2 separate regions of the Homo sapiens genome follow, and region 1 is linked to region 2. The links come from fine-mapping of genetic effects on gene expression. A gene starts in region 2. The other region holds a variant in brackets. All regions are shown on one strand. Distances are from middle to middle. Region 1 overlaps TUFT1 (tuftelin 1). Region 2 holds the start of TUFT1 (tuftelin 1).

Evidence for each region.
Region 1: its variant is fine-mapped to the expression of TUFT1 in iPS cells (HipSci, PIP 0.92).

The regions. Positions count from the first base shown.
Region 1 is chr1:151,556,775-151,565,792 of GRCh38, forward strand. TUFT1 (tuftelin 1) reads left to right here. Exons shown (of 13, transcript NM_020127.3): 2 at 5,317-5,391; 3 at 5,811-5,912; 4 at 7,130-7,216; 5 at 7,751-7,840. It also overlaps the pseudogene RPS10P6. Among named protein-coding and RNA genes, the nearest start is that of MIR554, 15 kb to the left of the region's middle. The variant G/A (reference allele first, on the strand shown) is at 4,697.
Region 2 is chr1:151,534,655-151,544,908 of GRCh38, forward strand. TUFT1 (tuftelin 1) reads left to right here and starts at 5,655. Exons shown (of 13, transcript NM_020127.3): 1 at 5,655-5,772. The coding sequence starts at 5,713. It overlaps CGN (cingulin), which reads left to right. Exons shown (of 21, transcript NM_020770.3): 16 at 388-477; 17 at 946-1,029; 18 at 1,126-1,244; 19 at 1,583-1,691; 20 at 2,076-2,239; 21 at 2,551-4,038. The coding sequence ends at 2,692. RefSeq lists enhancers at 4,400-4,916, 5,432-5,947, 5,948-6,462.

The sequences.
Region 1 (9,018 bases), 22 kb after region 2:
GCCTGGCCAACATGGTGAAGCCCCCTCTATATTAACATATAAAAATTAGCCAGGCATTGTCACGGGAGCTTGTAATCCCAGTTCAGTTACGTGGGAGGCTGAGGTAGGAGAATTGCTTGAACCTGGGAGGCAGAGGTTGCAGTGAGCCGAGATTGCGTCACTGTACTCCAGCCTGGGTGACAGAAACAGAATTAGTCTCAAAAACCAAACAAAATGCTGAGATTACAGATGTGAGCTATGATGCCCGGTTCTGTTTTTCATTTATCTGTTTTCTTTTTCCTGCCTTCCTGTGGATTAACTGAACACTTTTTAGGATTCCATTTTTATTCATTTATAATGTTTTTGAGTGTTATCTCTTTGTATAGACTTTTTAGTGGTTACTCTAGGTATTATACATTATGTATACATAGGTTATCACAGTCTCCTGGTGTTGGCATTTTACTAGTTTGAGTGAAGAAGAGAAACCTTTCCTTCCTTTACATCCCTTTACCTTCTCCCATTTATGATACTAAATATTTAATAGTATAATATTATCATATTTAAATATTTTCTCTGCATACATTTAGAACCACATCAGACATTGTTATACTTTTTGCTTTAATCATCAAATGTAACTTAGAAAACCTAAGAGGGGCTTTCCAGCCCCAGCCCCGGCCCCTACAGCCACCGAGATGTTGATGCCTAAGAACCGGATTGCCATTTATGAACTCCTTTTTAAGGAGGGAGTCATGGTGGCCAAGAAGGATGTCCACATGCCTAAGCACCGGGAGCTGGCAGACAAGGATGTGCCCAATCTTCATGTCATGAAGGCCATGCAGCCTCTCAAGTCCCGAGGCTACGTGAAGGAACAGTTTGCCTGGAGACATTTCCACTGGTACGTTACCAATGAGGGCATCCAGTATCTCCGTGATTACCTTCATCTGCCCCGGAGATTGTGCCTGCCACTCTATGCTGCAGCCGTCCAGAGACTGGAAGTCCTCAGCCTAAAGGTCTGAAGGGTGAGCGACCTGCAAGACTCACAAGAGGGAAAGCGGACAGAGATAACCTACAGACGGAGTGCTGTGCCGCCTGGTGCCGACAGCAAAGCTGAGGCTGGGGCTGGGTCAGCAACCGAATTCCAGTTTAGAGGTGGATTTGGTTGAGGATGTGGTCAGCCACCTCAGTAAAATTGGAGAGGATTATTTTGCATTGAATAAACTTACAGCAAAAAAACTTAAAAAAAAAAAAAGAAAACCTAAGAGGGGAAGGAAATCTTGTTGTATTTACCCATCTTTTTTCAACTCATGTTTCTTTCTTCCCATTATTTCAAGTTTCCTTTTTTTAAAAAATAATTTCCTTTCTGTTTAGAGAACTTTTTAAGCCATTCTTTTAGTGTAGGTCTGCTGGTGAGAAATTCTCTTAGTTTTCCTTCATCTGAGAATGTCTTGATTTCCCCCTCATTTCTGAAGGATATTTTCCTTTGTTACAGGATATTTTCCTTTGTCAATTCTGAATTGACCGTTCTTCTCTTTCAGCATTTGAAAAATAGTATGCCACTTCCTTCTACTCTCTGTCATTTCCGAAGAGAAAATAACCTTTGAGGGATCCCCTCAAAGGTTATTTTCTCTGCTTTCAAGACTTTTTCTTTGTCTTTAGTTATCAGAAATTTAATTATGATCTATCATGGCATGAATTTCATGTTTATTCTGTTTGAAGTTTGCTTGGCTTCTTGAATCTATAGATTTGTGTCTTTTGCCAAATTTTGAAAATTTTTGGTCATTATTTCTTTGAGAACATTTTCAACTGACCCTCTTTCTCCTCTCTACCTGGAATTCTGATGGCTGGATGGAATCATCTCTCAGTGCCCCAACCCAGCCTAGTTGTCTATGCTCTTCCAATTGGAATGCGTAGGTTTATGAAACAGACCAGACTTGACCTTCATTAGCTAATAACCCCTTTGTTCTGACTGAAGGATGCCCTGCCTTTTCCCAGCCTGCCTCCATAGAACACTATGGGGAGATAGTGTCCTTTTTTTTTTTTTTTCTTTTTGAGACGGAGTCTTGCTCTGTTGCCCAGGCGGGAGTGCAGTGGTATGATCTTGGCTCCCTGGAACCTCCACCTCCTAGGTTCAAGCGATTCTCCTGCCTCAGCCTCCCTAGTAGCTGGGATTACAGGTGCCTGCCACCACAGCCAGCTGAGTTTTATATTTTCAGTAGAGACGGGGTTTCACCATGTTGGCCAGGCTGGTCTCAAACTCCTGACCTCAGGTGATCCACCCACCTTGGCCTCCTAAAGTGCTGGGTTTACAGGCATGAGCCACTGCCCCTGGTCGAGATACTGTTTTAATAAAAGTGCAGGTATGTCCTGGGAAGGAAGAATTTGGCAGCCATTCTGGCTATTTTGAAATCATTTCCTCTTTTTTCTTTTGTAATATTTTCTTGACCTAGATGTCATGGAGCATTCTCTGTGCATTCAGAAAATACCTTTGCTAAGGGCTGTGGCATACAACAGCTCTTGAGGAGTTAACAGAAGGGGTAATTCTTCACAAAACACAAATAACTGAGAGGCAGATGCCATGGGAGGCCTTGTGACGCTGTGGGAGCTCAAGGAGGGGAAGATGTGTTTCCCACAGGATGCGGGGTAGCATCTTGGAAGATGAGGCATTTGAACATGAACTTGAGGAACTTGGAGACGCCTTAGGTGAAAATGGGAAGAATAGATATTTAAGGCACAGGAAATGATGGGAGCAAAGGCACTGAAGTTGGAAACCATGGAATGTATTGGATAGGGCACTGAGAGATGGTAGCAAGAGGTGTGAGTTTACCCAGACTGTGGAAAGCCTTGCATGCCACTCTAAGGATGTGGCTTTTATTTCATAGGAATTAAGTGTTTTCATAAAACCAGCTACTTTGCTAGGGTTGGGAAGGTTTAAGGGCCATTGTGACAGTGTCTTCTGTCTTCCCAATCCAAAAAGTGGGAGGATGCTGATGTTTCAGTGCCACCCTCCTGTGTGGCAGAGAGTAACCTCCATACATTTTCTCATTTTCTTTTTCTTTTTGAGACAGCATCTCACTCTGTCGTCCAGGCTGGAGTGCAGTGGCGCGATCTCAGCTCACTTTAACCTCCGCCTCCCTGGTTCAAGCGATTCTCCTGCCTCAGTCTCCTGAGCAGCTGGGATTACAGGCGCCCACCACCACGCCTGGCTAATTTTTTTGTATTTTTGGTAGAGATGGGGTTTCACCATGTTGGCCAGGCTGGTCTCGAACTCCTGACCTCAGGTGATCCTCCCACCTCGGCCTCCCAAAGTGCTGGGATTACAGGCATGAGCCAGCACACCGGCAATATTTTTAAGTAATATTCAACAAAAAAACCCTCAGTTGGGGGCCGGGTGCGGTGGCTCACGCCTGTAATCCCAGCGCTTTGGGAGGCTGAGGCGGGAGGATCACAAAGTCAGGAGTTCGAGACCAGCCTGGCCAATGTGGCGAAACCCCGTCTCTACTAAAAATACAAAAATTAGCCAGGTGTGGTGGCAGATGCCTGTAATCCCAGCTACTTGGGAGGCTGAGGCAGGAGAATTGCTTGAGCCCAGGAGACGGAGGCTGCAGTGAGCCAAGATCGTGTCACTGCACTCCAGCCTGGGAGACAAGAGCAAGACTCCATCTCAAACAAACAAAAAACCCTCAGTTGGATGGTAATATACCCCTTTTACAGATAAAAACATCAAGAGTTAAGTATCTCACCAAAGACTGATTTCTTCTCCACCAAGTTGGAACGTTATCTTCTCTAGACATTTGGAAGGTTAAGAGGGTTCCTTAAAACCTGTTACCAGTAAGATGTCATTTATGCAGCTGGGCCTCAAGGCAGGGGATGACCAGATGACCTCAAGATCACTTTCATTCTTGGATAGCCCAGCACCTATTTCTCTTCATTGTCTGGGAGAGGCATATACTCCATCCTCACGCTGTCACAGAATGGAATCCAGAAGGAGCCTGAGATATACTTGGTCCAACTTCCTTATTTTTCCAGTGGGAACCAGAGATCCATAGTGGCTAAGCCCCTCATTCACTTCCATGCATAGTGCAGGTGATTTACTCTGCCTTGTTAGCCTTCTCTCAACGTTATCATCTTCCCAATCTACAGGCCCTTACTTTTCCCTCCTACCACGTTTTTCCTTTCAGGTTTTTAATTTTCCCTGCAAAGTATTGTGTGTGTGTGTGTGTGTGTGTGTGTGTGTGTGTGTGTGTGTGTGTGAGTGTTTGAGACGGAGTCTTGCTCTGTCACCCAGGCTGGAGTGCAGTGGCACAATCTTGGCTCACTACAAGCTCCGCCTCCCGGGTTCACGCCATTCTGCTGCCTCAGCCTCCCGAGTAGCTGGGACTACAGGCGCCTGCCACCACGCCAGGCTGATTTTGTTTTTGTATTTTTTAGTAGAGACGGGGTTTCACTGTGTTAGCCAGGATGGTCTCGATCTCCTGACCTCGTGATCCACCTGCCTTGGCCTCCCAAAGTGCTGGGATTACAGGCGTGAGCCACCGTGCCCGGCCTTTTTAAAAAAATCTTCTTTGAAGCCCGGGCAACATGGCAAAACCTCATGTCTACAAAAAATACAAAAATTAGATGGGCATATTGGTGCGCCTGTAGTCCCAGCTACTTGGGAGGCTGAGGTGGGTGGATCACTTAAGCCTGGGAGGTTGAGGCTGCAGTCATGCGCGCGCGC[G/A]CGCACACACACACACACACACACACACACACACACTTCTTTGACTTATGAAAGAAAACCTGCTTCATTCTTTGAAATTAGGTTGATCTCTAGATGAATACCTATTATCTTGCCTGTTTTCACTTGGATAATTTCCATGTGGCTCATAGAAATGGGAGTTTGAATTCAGGTACTTTCCTATAGTTTAGTTCAGGAAGAATATGCTAGTCTTGTAAAGTGCATCAATAACTTGCTGGCTGGTTGTCAGGAGCAGAAATTCTGGATTGAGGATGAGCAGTCCAGGAATGACCTCTCTACAACTAGAGAAAGAAGAATGCATGCAATGTGTTCCCTGTAGTCCAAGAACCAGGGTAGCCCTGCTGGAGCTCTACAGAGCCATGTGCCAGGTAATCTTTGTTGTGAAAGAAAAAACTGTTGGGTGGTCCCAGAGTCACCACCCCAAACACCTGATCTTGGGCAAGGTAATGCTGCCTCCCTGGACTTCAGTTTTCCTAGTCTGTGAAGTGGTGATGATAAGACCCGCTCCACAGAGCTGGCAGAAGCACCCCTGTACTGGTAGCAGTTTGTACCTGTAGACTGTAAAGTTGAGGGGTTATTGTTGCTGTCATTGTCATTATTAGGGCAGCGTGGACATTCTCAGGCTGACTCTCCAGGGTGAACTGACAGGAGATGAACTTGAACACATAGCCCAGAAGGTACTGCGGAATTCTGGTGGGCAAGGCCCCCTCCCCACACCAGTGCTTCCTTGCTGCTGGCCTCTTACCCAAGTACTGCCTGGAGCCGACTCTGGTGATGCGAGCGTGGGAGCCCCTCCTTTCAGCAACATCCAGCTTGCCTCAGCCTTCTGCACTGCTTTGGGGCAGGAGGAGTCCCCCACTAAAATTAAAACTAAACTGCTACTTCTGTCCATTCTCCCTGGCCGGTGTTCTTGCTGCTGTGTGGCTTCTGTTAGAAGTTCGGAAACGAATTTTTGGAGAGGAAAGTCAGACTAATCCTTCAAGTCTTTTGAGAAACAGGTCTTCTGCATTAGCTGAGGGGCAGGAGTTCTGGGCTTGCCATGTGGTGTCTGAGCCATCTCTCTCTCTCTCTCTCTCTCTCATCTCTCTTTGGCCAGGCGGGCAGGAAGACCTATGCCATGGTGTCCAGCCACTCAGCTGGTCATTCTCTGGCTTCAGAACTGGTGGAGTCCCATGATGGACATGAGGAGATCATTAAGGTAAGCTTAGTTCACCTCCAACTTTTCTCCCTGTCCTCTTCCTCCCTGCACGTATATGAGAAGGAGCAGTTGATGTTGTTGCCAAAGGGAGCTTGTGGTTTGATGGAAGGAACCAGACCTGAGCTGCTAGTTCCTGGCAATCTCCTAGAAATATCTTAATTAATACCAGGAGACTACAGTCTGCCTGTTAGCAACTTTGGTGCAGCCTGGCCCCAGGCAAGGGGATGGACTGGATGACCTTACTAGGGGCCTATCCACTGACCATGTTTTGCTGCTAGAGGTTGTGGAGACAGGTAGGAGGTGTGTTTATGGAACTTATGTTTTCCTATAATGGGTTCATCCTGATGGAACTTATTTATTTATTTATATATTTTTAGTTTTGTAGAGACAGTCTCGCCTTGTTCCCTGGGCTGGTCTCCAAATCCTGGGCTCGAGCAATCGTCCTGTCTCAGCCTCCCAAAATGCTGGTATTATAGGCGTGCACCAGCCCACCTGGCTGATGGAACTTATTTTTTAAAAAATAAAATGATTTTTGTTATTTCTCTCTCTCTTTTTTTTTATAAAACAGCTTTTTTAGATATAAATCCCATACCACATGATTGACTCAGTTACAGTTTTGGTCAGTGCATAACAAAACTGCATAACAACGTTTTGGTCAGTGATGGACTGCGTAGACAACAGTGGTCCCATAAGATTATTATACTCCATTTTTACTGTATTTTTTCTGGGTTTAGATACATTACCATTGTGTGACGATCACCTACAGTATTCAGTACAGTAACATGCTGTGCAGGTTTGTTTGTAGCCTAGGAGCAATAGGGTACACCATACAGCCTAGGGGTGTAGGAGGCCATGCCATCTAGGTTTGTGTGTGTACACTCTGTGATGTTTGTACAAGGATGAAATTGCCTAATGATGCATCCCTCAGAATGTATTCCTATGATTAAGTGATGCATGACTGTATATATGTGAGTGTTTATGCCAATACAGCTATATAGCATTGAGCTAAATTTATTGCATTAGGGTAAATTTCCAGAAGTAGAACTGATAGACCAAAAAGTAAATATATTTTTAGGTCTTCTGATCCGAATCACCAAATTCCACCCAGTAAATTGGTGGTAACAATTTACCCTCCCACCAGCACTATATGAAGCTGCCTATTTTTGTATAGTTAATTTAATTTGAGGTTTCTTAACTAAATGGTGTTCTTATTTCAGGTGTACTTGAAGGGGAGGTCTGGAGACAAGATGATTCACGAGAAGAATATTAACCAGCTGAAGAGTGAGGTCCAGTACATCCAGGAGGTGGGCACCCCTTACCTCTCACGCAGTGCCTAGGTCATTTCTCTAAATCTCACATTTTTTGTGACTGTCTTCTTTTGTGGATTCTGGTTTTTCCCCTTCTTTTTCCTTTATGTCTCTGAAATGCCACCATGCCCTCCCGTGTGTCAAATATATAACTTTTGACCATACCTGATCCATTAATCCACAAATACTTAAGTACTATGGGCCCAGCACTGTCCCAGCCACCTATCGAAAATTACCAGCCACTTTTCACAGCATTTCTTAACTCCCTTCCTGGCTCGTGTTTCTCGTTGGCACTTATGCCCATATAACATATTACACATTTTACTTATTTGTCTTTTGTGTCTTGTGTCTCCCCAACAAGAATGTCAGCTGTAGCTCCACTTGACCAAGGTCCCTCCCTCCATCCTGCAGCCAGTCGTTAGGACAGTGCCTGACTCGCAGTACAGGCCAGGGATGGGGCACAGAGTTGGGTGAGTTGGCATGCTCTCTTTCTCTACCCTAAAGCTCAAGTTTCTTCCCCTCCCCTCCCAGGCCAGGAACTGCCTACAGAAGCTCCGGGAGGATATAAGTAGCAAGCTTGACAGGAACCTAGGAGATTCTCTCCATCGACAGGAGATACAGGTAATAGGAAATGGTCCATGGTTGGGTCCCCACCGAGGAGGTGGGGTTGTGCCAGGCAGTCTCATTTACCAATTACCCAGTGTGTGCTAAATCTAGCATCCCTGCCAGGAATGGAGAAAATAGAGGTGATGCTGGCTTCTCTGGAGCACTCACAATCTGGTTAGGACTCTCCAGCCGATGAGCACTTACATTTACACATGTCAGCTTAAACATAAGTACACCTGCTCCTGAAACACTGTACAGAAATTGAACTTATATAAATTAAATATCATCAGTTGTTAGCAAACCTCTTATCTATAAGGATTCTGTGATCAAGCTTCTTATAATAATAGAATTTTGTAAAGCAGACAATCACCTGTAAATCCACACTTCTCATAAGCTGATCTTGCTTAGTTTGGGTGATACCTGTAGCGTAAATTGAAGTCCGTGCCCTAGCCTGTTATTAATCTTGTATATAGTTATGTCTAACCTGGGATGGGAAGTTCCTCAAGGTTAGGAGTTCACCCCACCCCACCCCACCTCGTGTCTGTATCCTCACCCTCCCATTCCCCCCAGGTCTGGGATGTAGAAGGCATCAGTAAATGTTTGTTAGACTGAACAGATTGGGTAAGTCTTTCCTGGGAGGGATAATCCTGGGATCCTGCTTTTCAGTTTTTCCAAAACTCGAGGACAGAAATGTCCTCAGGAGAGCAGAGCTGTCTCTTTGTGACTTCGCCCTCATCCTTTAGATTCTGAGTTGTATCCTTGATTTGCATTTTGGTTCAGGCAGAGTCTTGCTCCAGCAGCAGCCCCTGCCTTCATTCCCTTGAGGGGAACAGTGGCCCAGCAGCTGGTGCAAGGAAAGTTCTTTGTCTTGGGCATGCACTTGTGTGGTGGAAATTACCTAATTTTTGCTTTGGCTGAAGGTAGGTCTTTCAGTGCTTGAGCTCACATCTGGCTGGTGGGAGCTACTTTGTCAGGTATCAGAAGAACCTAATGTGTGCAGAGACTGGCCCAAAGTCCAGCCCCCTTGTTTGCACAAACCGGCTGTCATATGATGAATAATCAGGCTTTGGGTCAGAAATAATTGAAAAAGATCTTCCCTTTGTAATTTTTGCTTTGTCAAACTTTATCAGGATCCCTGGGGGCAAGGGAAGCTCTTTGTTTGTGGCAGGCAGCTGCATGTATTCCCTGGCTAA
Region 2 (10,254 bases):
TGTACATACTCTTAGCCTCTACGTGGTACTGCCTCCAGTACCTCAGTTTCTGAGTCTCTTCACCTCAGCCTTGGCCCAGGTACTTGGGTTTCTCTCTCTTTTCCCATTAGAGAAATAAGGTTTTCCAATGAAGAGTAGATTCTGGGGTTTGCCTTTCTGTCAAAGGGCCGTCACCAGAGCATGGCCCCGACCTGCCCATGATGCCACATCTGGTCAGTAGAGGGCGCTGGCTCCATAGTGGCTCTGGGTCCAGGCAAGTACCAAAAGGTTACTGGGATGTGCAAGAGAGAAAAGTCTGTTAATGCTGGAGTTTGAGAGGCTCCTGGTCTGAGTTTGGCATTCTGGTGTCCAGCATTTGGGACAGAATTACTTGTTCTTCTGTCCTAGGAAAAAGTCTCACGGCTGGAAACAGAGTTAGATGAGGAGAAGAACACCGTGGAGCTGCTAACAGATCGGGTGAATCGTGGCCGGGACCAGGTAACCGCCCCCACCCCTCATCTCTGTTTACCCCTGACTGCATCACCTCTTGGTTCTCTCAAAAACAACTCTACCCTCCCATCTTTCATCATCTGGCTGCCGAATCTGTGCGTGGCTGGGTCTCCTTCAGGGTTTTGTCTGCTTTGGGAAAGGTTGGCCAGTTTCCTTGGGTGGAAAGAAGCCAATGATTTGCATGGAGGAAGGGATCCTGGTGGCCTGGGCTGTTCTCTGACCTGAATTGGGGCTTCTTTGGTTTACAAGGGATACTAGTTCCTGGAGGGACGAAGGAGGCTCTGTTTGCATTCTCTGGCCCCTCCCATTTGAATAGGCTGTGATTTTTTAGTTGCCTGGGAATTTTTGGATTCAGGGTTCAGAGACCATCCTCCCATGACTCAGCCTCACTTTGTTCAGCTTGCTGGTTCATCCTTAGCCCTCCCCAAGTCTGGTCCTCTCACCCATCCCCACTAGGTGGATCAGCTGAGGACAGAGCTCATGCAGGAAAGGTCTGCTCGGCAGGACCTGGAGTGTGACAAAATCTCCTTGGAGAGACAGGTGATGGGGGAGGGGAGGATTCTTAGGGATGGACCCCAGGAGGTGAGTAAAATGGCCAGTGGAGTGCTAACTGTGGAGGCTTCCTGTCCCTCTCAGAACAAGGACCTGAAGACCCGGTTGGCCAGCTCAGAAGGCTTCCAGAAGCCTAGTGCCAGCCTCTCTCAGCTTGAGTCCCAGAATCAGTTGTTGCAGGAGCGGCTACAGGCTGAAGAGAGGTGACATAAGCCTATCCTTCCTCCCTTCCTCCCTCCTTTTCTTCCTCCCTCCCTCTTGGCTTTTCTCCTCTGTGGCTCCCTCCATCTTCCACCTCAGATATGGCCAGCCTGGCCTGATCTTTAGGGAACACTTTCTCCTGATAGAGAGCAAAGAGTGTTGCAGAAATTCTGAAATGTGAATGACGTCACTCTCCCTCATTCTTTGAATCTGCCCTGGATCCTGCCCAGTCTAATGGTGGAGCTCATGGCTGAGAGGAGTCCTTGGGGACAGTAGGGGGCCAAGTTAGGATTCCCTTAGAAATGGGGACACTCATAGACATTCTTCTACCTCACCTTAGGGAGAAGACAGTTCTGCAGTCTACCAATCGAAAACTGGAGCGGAAAGTTAAAGAACTATCCATCCAGATTGAAGACGAGCGGCAGCATGTCAATGACCAGAAAGACCAGGTGAGGACATGGCACCCTGGAGCCAAGCAACCTGGGGCAGGTATATATTATATGTTTTCCTGAAAGCCAAGGGAGGCCCTTATCTCCTATAGGTCCTCCAAACTTAGACTTTCCTTGTATAAGGACAGAGATTAGATTGAAAAGACTAGACTAGAGAAGTCATGGTAAGCGTATATATTGAGTGCTTATGATGTGCTAGGTTCTGTAAGTATTACACATGTGTTAATACATTTAATCCCTAAGACAACCATGTGAGGTTAAGGAACTTGCCCAAGGCCACATTTTTCCAGCGGCAATTATACCTTGTCAAGATTGTTATGGGGGAGGGTCCCAGGCCATGGTAGTAGATGCTATTCAGATGTGTGGACTTGGTATCCTGCCCAGCTAAGCCTGAGGGTGAAGGCTTTGAAGCGTCAGGTGGATGAAGCAGAAGAGGAAATTGAGCGACTGGACGGCCTGAGGAAGAAGGCCCAGCGTGAGGTGGAGGAGCAGCATGAGGTCAATGAACAGCTCCAGGCCCGGATCAAGTCTCTGGAGAAGGACTCCTGGTATGGGCTACCCTTTTGCCCTTGCTCCATAGGGACACTAGAGCAGGGAGGGAATGGTCTCTCCTGTGCTGGATAAGGAGGAGAATCTCTAACATGGTACTGTGTAGTCACTTGTTTCTGGTTGGAAGCCAGTATATTTATTTATTAGTATCTCAGCCACCATCCTGTACCTCCCCAAATCTGATTAGTTGGGGATTTTGTGAATAAACTTTAGGCCTTAGAAGAATTGGGGTTTCCTTTGTACAAAAAGGGTGGCTGTCTTAATATTTCTATTTTCCCCTCCCCAACCATTATTCTTCTCTCTGAGTCAGGCGCAAAGCTTCCCGCTCAGCTGCTGAGTCAGCTCTCAAAAACGAAGGGCTGAGCTCAGATGAGGAATTCGACAGTGTCTACGATCCCTCGTCCATTGCATCACTGCTTACGGAGAGCAACCTACAGACCAGCTCCTGTTAGCTCGTGGTCCTCAAGGACTCAGAAACCAGGCTCGAGGCCTATCCCAGCAAGTGCTGCTCTGCTCTGCCCACCCTGGGTTCTGCATTCCTATGGGTGACCCAATTATTCAGACCTAAGACAGGGAGGGGTCAGAGTGATGGTGATAAAAAAAAAAAATCATCAGCAATAAGCTGATAGATGGACTTTCCACTGTAGGAGTGGACATTTCAAGCCAACTGAGCCTTTTCCTCAAGTGCCGACACCTCCCTCATCTCTCTTATAGTGGAAGGATGGTCAGCATTAGGCTGATGGGGACTGAGAAGGATAGGAAGGGATAGAAATTGCCATGTGTATAAAGCTTTATTCTTTAGCCCTTAACCCTAAGGCTCAGGGAAATACCCTATGTTATTGTGCTCCCTGGATTCCTGCAACTCATTTTCCTTCCACTCTGGAGCAGGGTGAGGGGAATGTTATGGGTAACAGACATGCAGGCATGGCTCTACCCATTTCTTTGCACAAGTATGGGGCCCATGTGGTAGTCCCCATACCCCTCCAGTTCCTATATTTTTGTCTTCTTCCTTTCCCCTCTTTGCCATTCCTACCTTGCATTTTTCCTGTCAGTGCCTTAGCCAAGGCAAGGAGATAAGGATGCTCTTCTTGCTTTTTATATCTGCACATTCATACCTCTCCAAAGACCAGCTTTTCCCCAGCCAGGGCCCTCAGCCTTCCCTGCTGCCCCAGTGATTGATTGAGAGAGCTGTTGGGGTTTCTCTGCCAATGACCCCTGGGAGAGGGACTTTGGTAGGGTCATGATAAAGTGGCGGGGGTCTGGTCCTGCTCAGGGTTTTCATCCTTCCTCCTCTCCCTCCTCTGTGACTGTGGATATGGTTATAAGGTGGTTGCACCTGGGAGCCCTGACAACTGGCTGCACAAATTCCAAAAGTAAAGGTGTCAGTCCCTGTGGCCTTCCTTGGGGCTTCTCTGACCACATGTGCCCAACTTCAATAAGAGAACCAAGGGACCCTCATTTTCTGAGGTGCTTGGCTCTGATTCAGGGCTTTGCAAGGGGTTAGAAGCTGACTGTAAAAATGGGAAGAGGCAACGGAAGACATTTATTTCTCCTTTGGATTTTGGGGAGAACCAAGCCCTGGTAGGGAAGAGGTAAGGGGGATGATTCACCTCCATATTTCCTAAGCAGGTTGTATAGGGAGCCGGTGGCAGGAGGAAGGCTGTTTTCACAAATGACTTGTAATGTCGTGATTAAAAAAATTCCTATATTCTTCTGCAAATCAAACGTTCTTTCCCAATCCAATCCAGCCTTGGTTTTATTTTAAATTAAATATTAAAATTACACATTTATATTGAAATCCTTGGTTTGTCTTCTCATTCTTTTTCTTGGCATATTTGGAGGTCCAGATTTTATGAAGTCATATTAACTGTACAGCTTAGGAGCCGAAGCTGGAGTTTTCTTCACCTGACTTTTCAGAGGCCCTTTAGAACAGAGCAGATGGGACCTACGAAACCTGGAGATGTTTATAGCAGCCCCATTCTCTTCTCTCCTGAACAACCTTCTGGGAAGAACAAGGACAGTAAATGCCTTTTTTTTTTTTTTTTTTTTGAGACGGAGTCTCACTCTGTCACCCAGGCTGGAGTGTAATGGCATGATCTCAGCTCACTGCAACCTCTGCCTCCCGGGTTCAAGCGATTCTCCTGCCTCAGCCTCCTGAGTAGCTGGGATTACAGGCGCGTGCCTCCACACCCAGCTAATTTTTGTATTTTTAGTAGAGATGGCGTTTCACTGTGTTGGTCAGGCTGGTCTCAAACTCCTGACCTTGTGATCCGCCCACCTCGGCCTCCCAAAGTGGTGGGATTACAGGCATAAGCCACTGCGCCTGGCCAGCAGTAAATGCCTTTTTGAGGGTTAGAGTAGAACAGACCAGAACTGGGTTTTATTCCCTTGGGTCATAGTGATAACCCCAGCATTCACTTCCCAGGTAGAAAAATCCTCATTCATTCCTAACTGACATAGGACCCAGTCCCTAACTGGGAGGTAGGGACATTTCTGCTGTTCCTGCCCTAGTGTTGCCTTGAAGAGGGAGCTGGCCCTTCACTAGAGCCTATTGCCAGGTATAGGAGTACTATCCCTTCAGGAGTGGGTCAGACCTCCTCCTAAAGTATTCTGTCTGCTGTCTCTGTGGACCACAGCCAAGTGAAGAAGCCATCTGCCAAGAGCAGCTGGGCGGGGACGAAGCTCCAGGGTCCTGCTTGGCCAACCCTCTCTTCTAGGCCCTCAAGATCCCAGCCTAGGCTTGGGGAGAAAATGCAACTGGAAAAGTCAAGGCTCATCCTTTCTCACGAACACAAATTCCTTTTAAGGCAATGTGTCCCGCCTCTCCCAACTATATAAGGGCAGCGTCAGTAAAAGAGCTTCTGCAAAACAAGCCCCACCCAGAGCCTAAGCTGACTGGGCCTCCTGGGCCTCTTGCCAAGGAAGTGCACCTGCCAGACTGGCTTAGGCCAGTCTGAGTGAGCTGGACCTTGGTGCCTGCCTTTCTGCGGTGGAGGAAAGGTTTACTCAGCTCCACAAAGCCTACAGGTGGCTTACGTATAGGGAGAGGAGCATGTATGGAAGGAAGCTTTTGCAGGTTCCAACTCCTCATCCACTAGGAGCAGGCAGGGTGATTCCCTCTGACCAACACTGATCTTGGAAAGATGGAAAGCGACAAGATTAATGAAGAATGTGCAACCACATACTCCAGATAAAGCTGTTCAGTTAAAGCAGCCCCATGTCGCTCCCAAGCCCCACCTTTGTGTAAATCTATGCGAGCACCGATGGGGCATGTCCCAGACCCATTGGCTCCGCCCACCTCACCTCCTCGCCTATCGTTAGTTCTCTGCGAAACCGCGAACTGGGGGCGCGGCCTATCTTCAGCCCCGCCCCTGATGGGCCTATACAAGGGGGCGGTTCCGCGCGCGCCCGCCCAGTTGGAGCCAGACAGCGGGGTGGACAAGTGGCGTGTGTGCTGCGACCCCGAGGGAAGATGAACGGGACGCGGAACTGGTGTACCCTGGTGGACGTGCACCCAGAGGACCAGGCGGCGGTAAGAAAAAGCGCTCTCGCTGTCTTCTCCGTTTTGTATTCCCGGTTTCTAAGTCCGCCCCTTCCGTGCCCCGCGCCGTGTTGGCTGACATCACCTGGTGCCCGGCTCGCGCGGTCAGCCCTGCGCGGCGCTTCTCTCTTTTTATTCTTTTGCCTGCGACGGGCAGTGGGAGTCGCGGGGTGAAGACTCCTTTGAGGCTGGAGGGTTCGGGGCGTCCCTGCCCTTTGGTAGGACACTGCGGCTCCTGCCTGGGACTCGGCGCCGGCGAGCCCGTGCTTGGGCCGCGGGTCTCAGGCGTCTTTTGGGCAGCCACATTGGGTCATAAGAGAATGAGCTCAAGCGACTGGGTCCCTGAGCGCCTTTGGACGTTGTGTCCTGCCGAGGAGGCTTAGGCTTTCCCGTGGGTCGAGGGTCCTGGTGACCTCCGAGGCCCTCCAAAGAATTTCATCATGGTGCTTTGGATGATCAGTAACAAGAAAAATGGTAGAGTAAATTACAGGGCTTGGACTGGAGGGCGGGGGGCAAGTAGGGGACGGTAGGACTCAAACTATTCCGAGATTGGCTAGGGACTCTACCTTTCGCTAAGGGATAGGGCTTTCCGCCCGGGGGTCACCTCTTGTCTTGGATTTCTCCTTCTTCCCCCTTGTAGTTCTCTTGTTTTCCTCCCTCTATCTGCCTGCCGATAGCTTCCTGGGACGGTGTGTTAGTTTTGCTTCCGTCTCCAGCCGCCAGGCCCTGGGATAGTGGAGGAAGGGGATGCAGAACCCGGGCCGAGAAGGGGAGGGAAGTGACCCAAGCGAAGGCTTCTGGACGGGGAGAGGGTTGCGGAGAAAGGGGGCGTTCTCCAGTGCAGGCTGGTCTACCCCTCTCTCCTCTTTCTCTGGCTCCCAGTCCCAGTTCTCCCCACCCTAGCTGACCATATGGTTTTTCCTCTCCAGAGGCTGAGGAGGGTAATTTGTGGCTGAGTGTTTCTAGGCTCTTTTGGGGAACTTAACCCAGATTAGGTGTGTACTATTTCATCAATTTCCAAGCTATTGTGGGTGGGAGTGAAATGAAAACTAAGGTGATGGGGAACTTGTGTATCATCCCCCCTCCCACATCTGACTCCCTTACTCTCTGCCTGCCTCATCCTGCTCTTGAGGTAGAGCTAACCCAACTGCAGCTAGATTATGGCTCTTCTTCAAACTCATTTCAGGTTTAGAATACAGATGGTCATTTAGTTCTTTTCCCAGTCCCCTCTCCATTTCTGCCTGGGCTATGAGTGTTTTTGCCACATTAAAATACAGATGTTGCTATTGGCCAACCCCAGTTGCCCAAACCCCATTCTTCTGTAGCCTGCCACATCCCCAGCTATGAGACTCTGAAGAGATGGAAGAAATCTATCCATTATGTGTCAGCCACAAGTCCTACTCCCTGCTCTTTGTTTTTAAGCGACGAGTGTCTTGCTATGTTGCCGGAGCTGCAGTACAGTGGCTCTTCACGGGTGCAATCATAGCACACCACAGCCTTGAACTCCTGGCCTCAATCCTTCTGCCTCAGCCTCCTGAGTAGCTGGGACTTCAGATGCACACCACCTATAGCTTCTCTTCCATGCTCTTGCTCTCTCTTTTGGAATAGTTGAGGGAAAAGGGTATGAGATAAATAAAGGAGAGGGATGTTTGGGCTGCTTTTTGCTTGCTTGCTATATAGAAAAGAGATCCGGAAAGAAGTCTAAGACCAAGTTGGCACTGGCAGTGTTAATGAATCATTAACCTCTACTATTTTTTTTCTTTCTTCCTTTCTTTTCTTTTCTCTTTTCTTTTCTCTTTTTTTGAGACAGGGCCTTGCTCTGTTGCCCAGGCTGGAGTGCAATGGCATGATCTCAGCTCACTGCAACCTCCACCTCCTGGTTTCAGTAGATCCTCCTACCTCAGTCTCCCCAAGTAGCTGAGACTGTAGGCACATGCCACCACACCTGACTAAAATTTTTTTTTTTTTTTTCTGTTGGTAGAGATGGGATTTCACCATGTTGCCCAGGCTAGTCTCGAACTCCTGGGCTCAAGCAGTCTGCCCACCTTGGCCTCCCAAAGGCTTGGGATTACAGGCATGAGCCACTACATCTGGCCCCTTTTACTCTTTCTTGATGTTTTTGCTCTTTGTCTGGTGGGGCAGAAAAAATTACTAAGAGAAAATAATGGACAAGGAATTCAGATGGTCTCCATCATAGGTTAGTTTGAAGCTAACCAGAGACCTCTAGAGCAAGGGAGAGACAGAAATTCCCTTTTATTCCTTTTTTCTAGGCTGAACTTGAGACTTATTTTACTCCAGAGCTGGGAATGAAGTAATCATTGCCCAGATCTGATCTTGGAGACATTCCTGGGCCCTTAAGGGAGGGGAGGAGATGGTGAACAGTCGGGACACAGGCCTTGTCCTGGATTCCTCTTCTCTGAGCCAACTTGCAGACAGAATTTATGGCTCTGGACAACCCCCAGGAATCTGTCATATATTCACACCACTGAATGGGTGCTCAATTCATGTGCAAAGTGAGTCAATAAATAAATGAACAGATGTTTCTTCCGGAGTCAGAATGTAGACAGTTGAACTGATTAGAGATCCTACTGGGAGTGAGGGCCCTGGGACTCTGTTGGTGTTTCCCCACTAGCCAGGCAGTGTGCCTTAGCGTATCACATGTGGACATGGACATAGGGCCAATACACTCTCTGGGATGTTTTTATTGTTGGAGGCAGATGCAGCAGGTACAAGGAGCCAGTGTTTTTCAGAACTGCAGACCATAACCAGTAGTGGGTCTGAGATCAACTTAGTAGGTCAGACCAGTATTAAAAAAGAAATAGAATTAACACTCTTAGAGTGTTAGTGAGGATAGACATTTTTGGTAGAACTTTTATTTCAGTTATATATATATGTGTGTGTGTGTGTGTGTGTGTGTGTGTGTGTATTATATATGTACGTGTTTGTTTACTGGGTCTTGATGTGAAATATGTTTTTGAGATTGAAAAGTTTTGCAAGCCACTGTGGTAAGTTATATTGGCAAATAAAAGAACAAATAAACACCAAACTCCTTTTTACTAGATATTTCCATTAACTTCCTTTGGTTATAAACAACAGAGAATGACTCCAGCTAAACTAAGCAGATGAGGAAATTATTAGAAGGAAATAGAGCAGTTCACAGAATTTAAGGGAAAGCTTAGAAAGCCCTAACCAAGGATGTTCTGGGGCCTGGGTAAGTGGAACGATGGAGGCTTACTACTATTGGTGAATTGGTTCCAGCTGTTTTAGGTCTCTGCACCATTATGCTCAAGATTCCAGGGAGAGAGTACCATTGTCCCTTGGCCCCCAGTTGTCCAGAGCAGGACAGGGTTCCTTGACTGATAGGCCCCCCCCAGATTACAGTGATGGAAGGAGATTCTCCAAAGACCCAAGTGTTGTTATCAGTGGAGGGGAATGGAAGCTGCGTGGCAAAAGAACAGATGTCTATGACATTAGACTTTACCATGGATGATCTCTGATTTCATTTCCCTCCTTCCCTCTCTTCCTTCTTTCCATCCTTCTTTAAATCACTTTTTTTTTTTTTTTTGAGACAGGGTCTCACTCTGTTGCCCAGGCTGGAGTGCAGTGGTGTGATCATAGCTCACTGCAGCCTTGAACTCCTGGACTCAAGGGATCCTTTCACCTCAGCCTCCCAAGTAGCTGGGACCACAGGCATACTCAACATGTTTAGCTAATTTTTCATTTTTCGTAGATATGGGTTCTCACTATGTTGCCCAGGCTAGTCTTGAACTCCTGGTTTAAAGTAATCTTCCTGCCTCGGCCTCTCAAAGTGCTGGGATTACAGGTGTGCACCACTGCACCTGGCCTTAAATCACCTTTTTTTTGGGCGGTGGGAGGGGGAGGATGGAGTCTCACTCTGTCACCCAGGCTGGGGTGCGGTGGCACAATCTTGGCTCACTGCAACCTCCATCTCCCTGGTTCAAGCAATTCTCCTGCCTCAGCCTCCCGAGTAGCTGGGATTACAGGCATGGGCCACCATGCCCAGCTAATTTTTGTACTTTTACTAGAGATGGGGTTTCATCATGTTGGCCAGGCTGGTCTCAAACTCCTGACCTCAAATGATCTGCCCGCTTCGGCCTTCCAAAGTACTGGGATTACAGGCGTGAGCCACCGTGCCTGGCCTCTTAAATCACTTTTTATCAAAGGAGTTTCACTCTTGTTGCCCAGGCTGGAGTGCAACGACGTGATCTCGGACATTTAAAATCACATATGTGCATGATTTTAAAGTATCAAAGTATCAATAATATCAAAAGGCTTTTAAAAGAAAATAGCAGTCCCCTGCTCCAAGTTCTGCTCCATGGAAGTAACCACTTTCTACTCTTTGAGCTGTTTTGTGTTTACCTCCATGTTTCTAAATAATATGCTTACAGTGATTTTAATTGATTTATCAGTTTTAGACATCTATTGACTTCTGTTGTAGGAATTATAGGAAAA